Linked DNA regions of Homo sapiens. The protein of the gene in region 1 interacts with the protein of each later gene in a pairwise test. Each region holds a gene or a part of one and is shown on either strand. Other genes may lie near its edges.

Region 1 (4,257 bases):
ACAATGATTACCGCTCCCGGAGGCCTACTGAGACCAGCCAGCACATGTTTGCTTTTTTGCAATCACGCAGCGGCACCAAACTTCTTACCCTGTTGTTTCAGGCGTTCCCACAGCCTGGCCCTAGCCTTGCCTTCTTCATTTTCCACTCTTCCTTTGCAGGTGCGGTTGGCTATAGACATCTTGCATTCTCCAAGCTTTTTATCTGTCTTTAGTCAGATAGTTCCATCTACCTAAAAGGCCCTTTGCCCTTCTCTCTCCCATATCCACCTGCTCTCAACCTGCCTGTCCCTGAAGAATGACATGGCCCAGATGCCAAAGCCTCCATGAAACCCCCTGGCTGCCTCAGCCGCCCTAGACTGTATCTGTACCTCTCTTGTAGCTCTTCTGTCTCAGTTGATAGGAATTGTGCAATGCCCTGTCTCCCTAGAGAACTCCCTGAACGCTCTCTGAGGGCAGAGTCACCGCTCATTCATCTTTAGGGCCCCAGCAGTGCTTAGTACTACAGTTCTTTATACAGGTGATGTTAAGTACATTTATGTTAGACAAATACCTCTTTTGCATGCCCCTAGGATACAAGTAAATTAATAATTTGGAGGAAATAGCAAGCCATTTATAATGGGTAACATGTCTTCTATTGTAGAAGCTCCCACAGTGACAGCTACTATAATAGCTACTTCTACTGAATGTTTACTGTGTGTCAGGCACTGTGCTTAGTGCTTTACATATAATCTCTCAACATACCATCAGTCATCACAACAACCTAGAGAAAGACATAGCCTGGATTCTGCTTTACACATGAGGAGACAAAGTCTCAGGGAAAGTCCATAGGAAGTGGAGTAGGCCGGGCACGGTGGCTCATGCCTGTAATCCCAGCAGTTTGGGAGGCCGAGGCGGGCAGATTGCCTGAGCTCAGGCGTTCAAGAGCAGCCTGGGCAACATGACGAAACGCCGTCTCTACCAAAAATACAAAAAATTAGCCAGGAGTGGTGGCACACACCTGTAATCCCAGCTACTAAGGAATTTGAGGTGGAAGGATCATTTAACCCTGGGAGGCAGCGGAGGTTGCAGTGAGCTGAGATAGCGCCACTGCACTCCAGCCTGGGTGACAGAGTGAGACCTCATGTCAAAAAAAAAAAAAAAAAAAAAAAGCAAACAGTAAAAATTGGTGGGATTTAAAAAAAAAGGAAGCGGAGGAGATGGGACAGGACTCAGGCCAGCAACCGCACTGCCAGCACACTGTCTAAATTGTGGAGAAATATTGAGAAAAGGTTAAATAGCGCAGGTTCAGCCTGGGCTTCAAAGCTGAATTGAGAGAACTTGGGGGCTAAGGATTTTTCTCCTCATCTTGAAATTATTTTCACACTAGTGTTTTTTGTGACTATCTTTGTTTGCCTTAAACTAAGTGTTGACTGAGATTCTGTCATACATAAGATACGTTGAGCTACTACTTTGTAAGTAGGTGTTAAAATAGAGCCTAGTAAGGTATAATAGATGGGACCAAGAACATCTTCTGGGAAATTCTTTTTTTCTTTTTTTGAGCCAGAGTCTCGCTCTGTCGCCCAGGCTGGAGTACAGTGGTGCAATCTTGGCTCACTGCAACCTTCGCCTCCGGGGTTCAAGCGATTCTCCTGCCTCAGTCTCCTGAGCAGCTGGGAGTACAGGCATGTGCCACCATGCCTGGCTAATTTTTGTATTTTTAGTAGACACAGGGTTTCACCATGTTGGCCAGGCTGGTCTCGAACTTCTGACCTCAGATAATCCGCCCACCTCAGCCTCCCAAAGTGCTGGGATTACAGGCACAAGCTACTGTGCCCAGCTGGAAATTTTTTCTTAAGAACACAAATTGAGACCCCTTTCTTTCGATGGGTGGCTTGATGTTTTGGAGTGGGGAGCCCATTCACTCTTTATGAGGGACTCTATCCTTCTCTTCCCTTAATTTTTTTCTTGCTAATTAAAATTTCCTTGTAATTTCAGGAAAGCCTAAAAAAAAAAAACCACACACACACCAGAAAAGCATAAAGGCAAAAACAGGATGATAAGCCATTTACCCCCAGAGACGAGCATTGTAATACACTGACTTACCCCAGCTGTGTTTTTCTTGCATCTGCACACACAGACTCCAACAGATGGGATGCTCTCTGCCGCAGACACAAAATACCAGACTAAAAGGGGTTTGGAGGATGGGATTTTGTTATCCCACATGGGTTGGTTTTTGTGCAGCTCAGCAGTGTGGGGCTCTGTATCACTCTCAGCCAGTACTCACCTTCCCCTGCTGGTACAGGATGCCTGCTCAAGCACCCAACCAAAGGAAGGACACGTGTCCAAAGGAAGGACACGCTTATGTTCTCCTTGTGGCCTGTCCACTGAGCAGGACACCCTCTCCTAAAGCACCAAGGAGACTTCCTCTTACATCTCCTTAAACAAGGTTATGTTCCATGCCTTTGCCCTGTGGCGGGGGCGGCTGAGAAAGTTGAGTACATGCATTTCAGCCTCTGCCACAGGAGGTGGGTTCTGCCAGCGTATCATTCAGGGTTCTGCTGCCACATGATTTTCCACGGCTACATAGAAGTCCATCATAGGAATGGCCACCTGACTAAGTCACTCCCTGACTTCCTTTTTCTCCCCTGACAACTAGACATTCTGAGCTCTTCCATTTCCCTCTATAAGGTTAGATCAGCTTGCATAACAAAATGGCATTTGTCTGGTGTGCCCTTGACTTGAGCTGCAACTTCTCTCCCCTGCAGTTTATTTATTTTATTTTGTTTATTTATTTATTTATTTTTTTGAGACGGAGTTTCGCTCTTGTTGCCCAGGCTGGGAGTGCAATAGCACGATCTCTGCTCACCACAACCTCCGCCTCCCGGGTTCCAGCGATTCTCCTGCCTCAGACTCCCCAGTAGCTGGGATTACAGGCATGCACCACCACACCCAGCTAATTTTTGTATTTTCACTAGAGACAGGGTTTCACCATGTTGGTCAGGCTGGTCTCGAACTCCTGACCTCAGGTGATCCGCCTGCCTCGACCTCCCAAAGTGCTGGGATTACAGGCATCAACCACCGCACCCAGCCTGTTGTTTTTTATTTATTTATTTATTTATTTATTTATTTATTTATTTATTTATTATTTTGAGGCAGAGTCTCGTTGTGTCGCCCAGCCTGGCATGCAGTGGTACAATCTCAGTTCACTGCAACCTCCACCTCCTGGGTTCAAGCGATTCTCCTGCCTCAGCCTCCCAAGTCACTGGGATTGTAGGCACCCGCCAACCATGCCCAGCTAATTTTTGTATATTTAGTAGAGACAGGGTTTCACCATGTTGGCCAGGCTGGTCTTGAACTCCTCACCTCAGGCAGTCTGCCCACCTCAGCCTCCCAAAGTGTTGAGATTACAGGCGTGAGCCACCAGCCTCCTGCAGTTTATAGACCTGGTTGGTTGGTTCCTTCACTCCCAAGGCTGAAGGAATTTGGATTTATGTGAAGGAGGTCTGGAAGTCGTTTTCTTTTTTTTTTTTTGCTATGATACTACTTTATTAGGCAAAACCACATACTACAAAAATGCTGGAAGTCATTTTCTCTGTCCTTTCCCTTACTCCCTGGATAGTTGAAAATAAAAAAATAAGGGGGGAGGTGCACGCAGGGCTAGTTGAATTGTCCCCAGATTCTACCCTCAGAGGGCACTGGCACTTACTGAGCCGTGGATCCTCTGAATCACCCTGCATGACCCAGAGCTGTGTCCTGACGGCGTCTCCTTCTTTTGCAGGTGGTGGAGTTTGACACCCCATCGGTCCTTCTGTCCAACGACAGTTCCCGATTCTATGCCATGTTTGCTGCTGCAGAGAACAAGGTCGCTGTCAAGGGCTGACTCCTCCCTGTTGACGAAGTCTCTTTTCTTTAGAGCATTGCCATTCCCTGCCTGGGGCGGGCCCCTCATCGCGTCCTCCTACCGAAACCTTGCCTTTCTCGATTTTATCTTTCGCACAGCAGTTCCGGATTGGCTTGTGTGTTTCACTTTTAGGGAGAGTCATATTTTGATTATTGTATTTATTCCATATTCATGTAAACAAAATTTAGTTTTTGTTCTTAATTGCACTCTAAAAGGTTCAGGGAACCGTTATTATAATTGTATCAGAGGCCTATAATGAAGCTTTATACGTGTAGCTATATCTATATATAATTCTGTACATAGCCTATATTTACAGTGAAAATGTAAGCTGTTTATTTTATATTAAAATAAGCACTGTGCTAATAACAGTGCATATT
Region 2 (4,736 bases), on another chromosome or scaffold:
TCTCAAAAAAAAAAAAAAAAAAAAATACAAAAGTACAAAAATTAGCCGGGCATGGTGGCGCATGCCTGTAATCCCAGCTACTTGGGAGGCTGAGGCAGGAGAATTACTTGAACCCGGGAGCCAGAGGTTGCAGTGAGCCAAGATCATGCCATTGCATTCTAGTCTGGGTGACAGAGCAAGACTCTGTATCAAAATGATAATAATAAAGTACACAGGGGGATGTATGTAGTTTCTCTACAGATACTAAGCCATTTTATTCAGCAGATTTAGTGAGGTGGGGGTCCTGGAACCAATTTCCATTTGAATGCCAAGGTCAAATTCAAATTCACTGTCTTCCTATCCAAACCTACCCCACTTTTATATCTACTCTCTCCACTAATGGCAATAACCAGCCAGGCCAGAGACCTGGGAGTCATGGTCAATATCTCTTGTTTCCTTACCTCTAGGCTCCCAGCACACACACACACACACACACACACACACACACACACACACACACACACCACCACCACCACCACCACCACATCTAATCGGCCAAGAAATCTTTGTAGCTTTTCTGCATTACCCAGTATAGCAGCTGCTAACTTCAGATGGCCGTTGAATACTTGAAATATAACTAGTCCAAATCTAGATGCTGTAAGTGGACTTTCAGACAATGCCAAATAAAAAGAAGCATTTCGGAAATGTTTATATTGGCTGCATGCCGAAATAATAATATTTTGAATATTTTTGGTTAACTAAAATATATTATTTAAATTAATTTCCCCTATTTCTCTTTACTTTTCTAATATGGCTCCTGACCCATTTTATTTCTGTTGAGCATCACTCTTCTAAATGGCTCTCCTGTGTTCCCTCCTAACCTTTCTCTATCACCACCCTAATTCAGGCCTTCATTTCCTGGTGCCTGAAATTGCTTTTTTGTGTTTTTGTGTTTTTTTTTTTTTGGTAGAGGTGGGGTCTCACTGTGTTGCCCAGGCTGGTCTCAAACTCTTGACTTCAAGTGATTCTCCCGCCTCAGCCTCCCAAATGCTGAGATTACGGGCCTAAGCCACTGCACCCAGCTGGTTCTCACGCTTAACCCTCCTCTAATCTGCATGCTGTAGCCACAGGGTCTACTTAAAACATAAATGTGATCATGTCACTCTCTGACTTACACCCTTTCAGTGATGATCTATTACATTACATCATCTGTTACACTTAACTCAGCATACAAGGGTCTCTGTGAATCAACTCTTCAATTGCCTCCACCACATATACTCTAGGTTAGAGCCCTTCAGAACTAATTGCCTTTCTCTTTTACCGCTATTTCTAGCTGTTTCTTTCCTTGCTAGAAATTTCCCATTCTCTCCAATCTAATTAACTCCCAACTTCCTTAAAGATTTCACTCTGCCCGCCCCACTGCCATCCCTCACTCTTGCCTGGTGTCACAGTTACCTATTTACTGATCCTCTATCTCTTCAAGACTCTGAGCTCCTTGTTTGGGGCCTATCCTAAAGGAGAACTCAATAAAGGTTGATTGGAATGCTCAGGCCCAGAGGGGCTGACCCTTTATTTCTAAGGATACTTCAGCTGTTCTTGAAACCGAGAAAGAGGAGAAATGAGATTACCTGGTAGGATTCCCAACCAATCTCTCTTTTTTCTCAAAAGTCCCTCTAGGTCAGCCAGAAGTATCCAGAGGAAAAAGTCTCCATTCTTCATAAATGCCCTCCCCAATTTCACCTCTACTTATCCTGCTACCACCCCTGCTCTCCCCTAAAGGTCACTGTAGACAACTTTGGGCCCCCCTCGGTGACCTTTAGGAGTGGAAAGCTGGGTGTGATGGTTCATGCCTATAGTCACAGCACTTTAGGAAGCGGTGGCGGGCGGATCACTTGAGCTCAGGAGTTTAAGTCCAGCCTGGCCAACATGGAGAAACCCTGTCTCTACTAAAAATACAAAAATTAACCCGGTATGTTGGTGCACGCCTGTAATCCCAGCTACTCTGGTAGCTGAGGCATGAGATTCACTTGAACCCAGGAGGCAGAGGTTGCAGTGAGCCGAGATCCTGCCACTGCACTCCAGCCTGGGTGACAGAGCAAGAACTTGTCTCAAAAAAACACAAAAAACAAAGAGTAGGGTGGAAAGGGAGTCCTGCTGAATCAGAGCAGCTCCCTCGCTCAGTGGAGGGGCTGCAGCAGACAGTATCTGCTGTGGAGTAAAAGGGGGAGCCCATTCAGAGTGAGATGGGAAGCATTTTGAGTGTCCTGCCTCCTAATCTTTCTTTACTCCCTCTTTCCCCTATAGACCATAGTAACCTGGGAGGAGGAGCACCTGGTGTGTGTGCAGAAAGGGGAGGTCCCCAACCGGGGCTGGAGACACTGGCTGGAGGGAGAGATGCTGTATCTGGTAAATGGGGTGGGGGCTGGGTGTCTGGGAGAAGGGCCTCCAGCTATAAGGCATCCCCTTGTCCAAACCAGATAGGTCCACCACTCTTCCCCCAGCCCAGCCCCAATCCCTATCCAAGGAATTGACCAGGGAGGGAAAGCAAAAGCACTGGGAGGAGTGGGGAGAGGAAGAAACAGAGTGGCCAAGGTGGGCCCTGGCTACGAGTCGGATGAATGCCCATAAATCATCACTGGCGAGATGGAGGCTTCAGCCACTCACATCCCCTGACCCAGCCACCTTCCTTCCTGAGGGGTGGAAAGTTGAGGATGTGGAATAATGATACAATTGCCCATACATCAAACACTCAAGCTGCTGTATCCGGAAGGAGTAAATGGAGGTCAAGGACCTTGAGAAAGGGGCTCTGGCTGGCAAACGCCCTCTTTCTCTCTCCCCCTCACTTCCCCTCTCTCCCCAGGAACTGACTGCAAGGGATGCAGTGTGCGAGCAGGTCTTCAGGAAGGTCAGATAGCCGGAGAGGAGCCAAGATCCCTCCAGACAGCACCAGCTCACAGACGCTCTTGTTGTGCCCCCTTCAAGCCCAGATTGTGCCAGGTCAGCTGTCCCTTCCTCTGGCCACCTTTCCTCCCTCTGGGTCCCTCCTCACCCCTCCCCGTGTTAATCTGTAACTTGCAGCCCCCAGGCCAAAGTCCTTTCTCACACTCCACTGCCCAATAGTGACCTCACTTCCAGGTCAAGGTCTGGCGTCCCAAATGAAAGAAGCAGGCAAAGGGAAGGAGCCCCTGAGAACAACCAATCTCCGCTCTCTCCTGTCCATTTGACCTCTTCTTTTCCTTCTAAGAAAGAACTAAGCTTTGGGCATTTGGCGATTAGTGAAAATTCTATCCTGATGGACTTCTGGAAAACTGTGACTGGGGTTCAAGAGTTTAAACAGGGGCTACTGGCAGAGTCTTTTTGTCCATTTCTTTGTCCTTATCCTTGAGAAAGTCTCATGTGCTCAACAAAACCAGGCCCAAGACACAGCCCCCCACACACAGGGTTCAACGGACTCCACGGTTCTGACATCTGAAGGCATCTGGCCATTTGATACTTCCATCCTATGTGTTGGGAATGAGGGATGGAATGGGGTAAGACCTTTGTCCAGTGCTTGGGGAGGCGGGGAGCTTCTAAATGGTGACCTGTCCTCCGTGTCTGCTTTGGGAAGGGCAAGCAGCAAGAAAGCCAGAAAAAGCTGAAAAAGGAAGTAGACGGAGGATGTGAGGTCAAGGAATAAAAGACAGTAATACAGGGGTGTGAAGGCATAGGAGGGAGAAGCCCAGCAGTCCTGGCTATAGGGACCCTCTGCTCAAAGGCCAGCAAGGCTGGAGACCAGAGATAAAGAGGAGAGCTGAGGACAGCAAGGGTCCCAGAGTTGCTGCCTTGGAAAACAGCCCAGAAGGGTGGAGCTGGCTCAGGGTCAAGGCCAGCTCCAGCCTCTGGCCTCCTCTCCACCTCCAGGGGCCTTGGCTCTTTCAGAATAAAAGTCCTAGGGGGCCCAACTATCAGAGTGAAGAGGGCTCAATGTGAGGGTGGGAAAAGAGCCTGGGGGAAGGGTTGAGGGAGTTGGAAAGTCCCTGGCCCTCATCAGATGAAGACTCTTGACCCATCTTCCTGCAACGGCTGGCCCCCCCATGCACACAAGACAGTCACTAGGGCTCTGGCCAAGAACTAGGGGCTTGTGATACTGATCCTACCACATGCTCTGGAATGAATTTGGAATAGAAAAAAAAAAGGAACTCAGGGTTGAATGGAAAATCTTATTCCCTGCCCAATCTCTGCAGATGTCCACAGTAGAGTGGAAAGCCCCTTCTTTGCAAAGCCACCCAGCAGAAGCTCTGAGGGCTGCTGGAATCCACCTTGTCCCATTCCAAGGCACAGGAGGATGCTCCGTGTGTACTCGCCCATTGCCCACATCTCCAGATCAACACAGTGTCCTTGCTCTTGAGTTCACAGTGCATGTCCAAGCCTCTTCCCACAGGACGGTCCTCCATGCCCTTCAGTGACCATGCTGGTCAGTGGAGTCTCGGCAGAGGCCTTGACTCAGGAACTTGTAGGCCCCCATGGTGGGTTTTTCTAAATATTTCTATATATTTTTATTTTTCCCCCAAAGGTTGACACTTCTTACCATGGTGGTTTTAAGACCCAAGCTAAAGTGGGCTCAATCCCTCAAAACTCCCCGTGATGTGGGCGTCCAGAACATGGCCACTGCAGGACCCCATCCTCCACTCGACCACACTTCTCCAGGGGCCAGACCACACCCAAAGGCCTGGAGATCCCCTAAGGGAGCACAAGCATCAGGGGAGGACTATGCAGCT

The links. Proteins that work in one complex are often made in the same cells at the same time.
Region 2: the proteins of ABCC5 (region 1) and RBP5 interact in a two-hybrid assay, tested with the Homo sapiens proteins (one large-scale study listed by BioGRID and IntAct).

What each region holds. Positions count from the first base shown.
Region 1 is NC_000003.12:183,920,902-183,925,158, reverse strand, and holds part of ABCC5 (ATP-binding cassette sub-family C member 5), read left to right. Parts: intron 1-3,757; coding exon 3,758-3,859; 3' UTR 3,860-4,257. UniProt on the Homo sapiens protein: ATP-dependent transporter of the ATP-binding cassette (ABC) family that actively extrudes physiological compounds, and xenobiotics from cells.
Region 2 is NC_000012.12:7,122,278-7,127,013, reverse strand, and holds the end of RBP5 (retinol-binding protein 5), read left to right. Parts: intron 1-2,283; coding exon 2,284-2,385; intron 2,386-2,839; coding exon 2,840-2,893; 3' UTR 2,894-3,328; downstream 3,329-4,736.